Linked DNA regions of Homo sapiens: region 1 is linked to region 2. Evidence: fine-mapped expression QTL. Tissue or cell type: skeletal muscle. Region 2 holds a variant in brackets; the other region holds the start of a gene. All regions are shown on one strand. Distances are from middle to middle.

What was found. PIP is the estimated chance that this variant, and not a neighbour inherited with it, causes the effect.
Region 1: PDCD11 starts here. The variant in region 2 is fine-mapped to the expression of PDCD11 in skeletal muscle (GTEx, PIP 0.92).

Annotation. Positions count from the first base shown.
Region 1 is chr10:103,395,196-103,397,950 of GRCh38, forward strand. It overlaps PDCD11 (programmed cell death 11), which reads left to right and starts at 1,431. Exons shown (of 36, transcript NM_014976.2): 1 at 1,431-1,535. ATP5MK (ATP synthase membrane subunit k) reads right to left here and starts at 1,280. Exons shown (of 5, transcript NM_001206427.2): 1 at 1,214-1,280; 2 at 551-837. RefSeq lists enhancers at 543-1,375, 768-857, 1,008-1,257, 1,915-2,416, 2,417-2,755.
Region 2 is chr10:103,449,214-103,451,927 of GRCh38, forward strand. It overlaps CALHM2 (calcium homeostasis modulator family member 2), which reads right to left. Exons shown (of 4, transcript NM_015916.5): 2 at 1,870-2,072; 3 at 174-886. The coding sequence starts at 728. Among named protein-coding and RNA genes, the nearest start is that of CALHM2, 1.8 kb to the right of the region's middle. RefSeq lists enhancers at 1,830-2,199, 2,148-2,714. The variant G/GC (reference allele first, on the strand shown) is at 1,256.

The DNA.
Region 1 (2,755 bases), 54 kb before region 2:
TACTTTAGGGCAAAGATAAAGGAACCCTTGTGTTTACAGTGCCCTTTGTAAGACTCCTAGTTGTGATTTAATGTTGTTAAACGGTGGTATGTTTTAATTAAGTTGCTAACTGCCCTTCTTGAGACAAGGTCTCGCTCTGTCGTCCAGGCTGGAGTGCAGTGGCGCGATCTCAGCTCACTGCAATCTCCGCTTCCCGGGGTCAAGCGGTTCTCCTGCCTCAGCCTCCCGAGTAGCTGGAACTACAGGCGCGCGCCACCACGCCCGGCTAATTTTTGTATTGTTGGTAGGGACGGGGTTTCACCATACTACTCAGGCTGGTCTCGAACTCTGGACCTCAGGTGATCTACCCGCCTCGGCCTCCCAAAGTGCTGGGATTACAGGCGTGAGCCACCGCGCCCGGCCACTAACTGCTCTTAAATGTAACTAATCCTTCCGTGCCTCTCTCCACCTGTGAGATGGGCACTTTATTAAAGGTCCAAAGTGACCAGTAGCTCTTGTTACTTTCTCTGTTCCTCGATATTGCTATTTTCCTTTCTAACTTAACACCTACCTGGAATGGTGAGATCACGAGGTAAGGAAGGCAAAGATGAGTGAGAACCACTCAGGTAACAGAAGCAGCCTCTTGCATTCACGGAGTTTACAGCTCTCTGTTCTGGTTACCTCCTAGGAAAGGCCTTCCCACTGATCGTCTATAGACTGAAATCTAACCCTTTTACAGCGGGCCTGGCGAACTGTAGGGGCCGGGCCACATTCACTCGCTTTGAAAAAGGCTGCAGCGCACCTAAAGGAGGCCCGGCTGGCCAGCTTCCTAAAGCACAGCTCGGTGGGAACAAACAGCTATGGACATACAGAAGAAAAGAGGTTAATTCGGCCGGTGATGGGGATCAGAAGCCCTAGTCCTCGTCCAATATTACGTCACTGGGTGACCTCGAGGGACGCTTCGCGGAGGGCCTCATTTTTCTCCACTGGCGAATGCAATCTAAGGGTCTTCGGAAACTGTGGGAGCCCTTGGGCGCACCTATCCGCCTCACCTCGAGGCTTCTCACCCGCTGGCCGCCCCCTTGCGCCCCTCGTTTTTTCTAGCTCCTTTCCCATTCCCCACCGTTTCTCTCCTCCAAAGCTAAGAACTCGAGTTGCTCCTCGGCCAGAAACGGCGGGCGGTCCTGCAACGTGCAGGCGCCAGGTCCAAGCCCGGACTCCCCTCTTCACCCACCTGCCAAAGCCGCAAATTCCGCAGCTGGTGTCCTTCAACGAATGTAACCACCTCTCGGCCCGGCCGGAAGAAGCCACCTCCCCCGCACGCGTTTAGCCGGCCCCCGCGATTCGGCCTAATGCGACGATTGGCTATGGCTCCAAATCCCGCCCTTCCGATTCCTGTCTCTAGGTCACCTCCGCAACACAGCAACGGAAGTAGGGTGTTGAGCCCGCCCACACTTCCGGAAGAATTGCACTGGACTGTGGGTATCCTGGTCTCCGCGTGTGTGAGTACCGCGGCGCGAGGTTAGTGGTAGCTGGGTGCAGACGCCGTGGCGCTGGTGAGTAAAGGCAGAGGCGAAAAAGGAGGAAACCTCATGGCTGTCAGGTCTGTCCCAGGCCTGGTTCCCTGCCAGGCACACGCTAGATGAGTGTGGTTCGGCCACCTTAGCCCCGCTTCGAAGCCGGCTCTGTTGTAGCAGCCCCTGTAACCCCAGGCTTTGTGTTCGGAAAGTAGCCTAAGTATCTTCTGTGCCCCTGGATCGCCTTACTTTTCAGAGCCTCAGTTTCCCCTTGCTTGAAAGGAAATTAAGGGTGAAATTATCAGCAAACTAGACCCCCCAAACTTTCCTGTTTCTATGAATCATATACCCATCCCTGATTCCATATCCTTGGCCCCACCCGGTCATCACTTCTTTAGTCTAAAGCCCTTGTAGAGTCTTATTACCAAGTGTCTGTCAGAACTAACCTCTCCTGTCTTCTGTTTTCACTTATACCCAGTTCTGGTTCTCATGGTTTCTCTGCTGTACTGCATTTGAATCCTTTTTTTTTTTTTTTTTTTCTGTCACTGAGATAACAGGAAACAGTGCATTTGAATCCTTCTACCGAATTTACTTGCCTTCAATACTGTCTCTCTTCATGTCCAATCTATAGCCTGCAGTATATTTTTCTTGCTTACTGTTCTCTCGCTTTCCCTGCTTAAGTCTCTGACTTGCCAAAGCAAACTACCCATATCTAATTCAAGGTCTTCCACAAAAAAGCCCAACTTCTCCTTTAATTTTTTTGAGACAGAGTCTCACTTTGTCTCCCAGGTTGGAGTGCGGCGGCATGATCTCAGCTCACTGCAACCTCCGCCTCCCGGCCTCAAGCAATTCTCACGCTTCAGCCTGCCTAGTAGCTGGGACTAGGCGCAGGCCACCACGCCCGGCTAATTTTTGCGTTTTTGGTAGAGACGGGGTTTCGCCATGTTGACTATGCTGGTCTCGAACTCCTGACCTCAGATGATCCACGCGCCTCGGGCTCCCGAAGTGCTGGCATTACAGGTGTGAGCCATGGTGCCCGGCCTTCTTTAAAATTTAACTTCAATTTTTATGCTTTAATCTCCCAGTGGTCTAGTTGAATAATTCCTCAGAGACAACAGCAAGCCTTTGAGCAGTTGTTTGATAGGGAAATTGCTGGTGTTTATTGAAATAATAGGCTTTTCCCATCCATGTCTTTTCTCACATTCCCTTTCTACCTGTCAAGCTTCTGTTCATCTTTTACCCTTAAGCTAAAAAAGATC
Region 2 (2,714 bases):
AACTGGCCCTTGCCCCACCATGCACCAGTTAACCAGCCCTGATACCTAACGCTAGTGCTTTCCCACAGACCTCAGCCCCTGAGGACCAACCCCAGCTTTAGCACTAGGCCATCCCCGGACCTCTCACCAGCCACCACTAGGGAAGAGGAGCTTCCCTTTGCACAGCTCCTTACCTGGGACTCATACCTGAGCCTGCGGCTGACCTCCTCCCGGAAGTCTGACAGGTTGTCAGGGTTCTCCTTGCAGGGGAACCTGGCCAGGATTTCAGTGGCGTGGGCTGATGGGAAGTGCTCTTCCCTGGCCGTGAGTGAGGAAGGGTCCACGAACTCACTGAGAGCACAGACATAAGCCTCACCACGCAGCAGGGAGATGACAGACCAGGTGACAGGGGCCACAGCCGCACGTCCCAGGATGGAGCTTAGAAGGAGGAAGGTGGGGGCGGCGGAGCAGTTCTTGGTCCTCCGGTGCTGGCACTCGGCCACGAGGTTCCAGGTGTGGTTGTTGAGGATGATGCCAATGATGAAGAGCACCAGGGCGGGCACGCCGATGGCCGCCAGCCCGTACAGGTAGTTCCGGGCCGGCGAGCAGGGGCAGTGGAAGGCCACCACAGAGAACAGCTCCTGGCTGCCCACCGTGCCCAGTGCCACCAGGCCGTTGAAAATCATCACATCCTTGCTCTTGAAGAAAAGTGACAGGAAGCGGAAGTTCTCTGCGATCAGGGCTGCCATGGCGATAGTCGTGGCGGGGTGGATTGCAGGAGAGGAGGCAGGAGGAGACGGGATTGATGGTTGCTGGTGGTACTAGGAAGGGGCACAGGCTGGGAGGCGCTGGACGGCAGGGTGTGGTTGTGCTATTTTATCCCCAGCTGTGGTTGGCCTGGTGTTTCCTGTGGAGCAGATGACCGATAAGTGTTTCCCTCTGAAAACCAGGAGTTGAGGAAGATGCTAGTGTGGACAGGCTGGGGAGAAAGGAAGGACCATAGGGCCCCAGGGAAGTGACAGTTGCCACTGTTCACTGAGTTCCTCCAGGGTGCATGGCACCCCTCATTTCCCATCCTCACAGTCCCACGTTGAGCTGTGTGCCCGCCGTGCACTAGGGAAAGTGAAGGCTTCCTGAGGACGAGTGGCTCGCCAGGGTCACAGATGAGAGGCAGACTGAGATTCAAGCTTGGGTGACCTGCCTCAAATGCTTAGGTTCTTTTTGCCACCACGAGCTTCTCCTGGGGTAGGGCTTGGGGGTGGCCCATGGTGCTAAT[G/GC]CATGTGGGGTGCTGACCGGCTTTCCCTCTGGGAGTCCAGGTGGCGCATATTAGCAGAGGGGCCAGGGACTCCTTGGATCCAGGGCGTGTCCTTAGGGTCTCAGCCTTGAGGGTGTAAAAGCTAAAGTGAGTGTCCGGGTGGATAAGGGACTTGGATAGGATCCTGCCGTGTGGGCTGGGGTGGGTACAGCAAGATGCCAGAATCCCTGGAGTTCGCAAGGACATTATCTTTTTGGAGACCTCAGGGTCTGATCACACTTCATGACTGTTCTCTGGGCCTCAGATTCCTCATCAGTGAAAAGAGGATAAATCATCCTGAGCCTTGCTCTTTCCTAGGGATGTTGGAGGGAAAGAAAAGAATAAAAGATGCCTGATTGTGCTCTGCGTGAAACTCTCCATCTCTTCCACCCTGTCTTGTCTTTGGGGTGGGGACGATTCTCCTGCCTGCAAAGATCAGGGAACTGAGACCTGAAGAGGATAAAGTGCCTTGCTGAGGCCCAAGAAATACAGAGGTGCCACAGCAGGACCTCTAACCACAACCTAAGGAGACTTGGGAAGTGGATAAGGGTGATTCTGCACTAAGTGAACCCTCTTTTTTTCTGTCTCCTACTGACCTTGCCGTGTCCATCCACGGGTGTCCCGAAGAACCTCCTCTTCCGCAGCCGTGACCCCTCTCCTATCCAGCAGCCTCCCAGCAGCTCCGCTCCACCCCGCCTGCCAGCAACAGGAAGCCCTGGTGAGACCAAAGGCTCAGCGGTGCCACCAGCTCATCCGGAGATTATTCTGCCTTGGTCTGGGCTGTAGCGACGCTGGCAACCTGCCGGGAAGTGGCCATGGCCTCGGGCAACAGCGAAGTTTAGCCCAACTCCCTTCCCAGCCTCCACCCACACAAGCCTGAGAGACAGGCCAGGGTGTGGCCCCATGTCCTCCCCCTCTGGAGGGTGAAAAACAAAACTCCCCAGGCCAGAGGAAGCCAGGGAGTGGAGGGATGGGGTGAGCGCCAAACACAGACCTAGCCCTGTTCCCTTCCATGCTTCATGGAGGGATCACCCCTTCTAGATCACCCCTTCTGTCCCTGCCAAGGAAGGCTGCCAGATGGGCTCAGGCAGAGCCATGTGGCCATGCAGACTCCAAGAAAAGGAGAAGCTGGAGGAGGAGGACCAGGAGGAACAACAGGAGGAGGAGGAGGAGGAGGAGGAGGAGGAGGAGTCTGATTCTTCCCCCACTTCACAGCCTGGAGCTTCCAGCCTAACTTCCTGGGAAAGGCAGTTTGCATCACTGCTGGGGAAGAATGGGTTAAAGTCAGCCCCCTTTGCCCCATCCTTTTCCCTTCTTGGCTTCTAGGCTCCTAATTAGCTCCCTGTGGAGGCCCTGGGTTCATAAACTGGCTCAAAGTGGGGTACAAGATACCTGCACAGGGTGGGTGGTGAGCAGAGGATGGGCCAGGCCATCTTCTGAG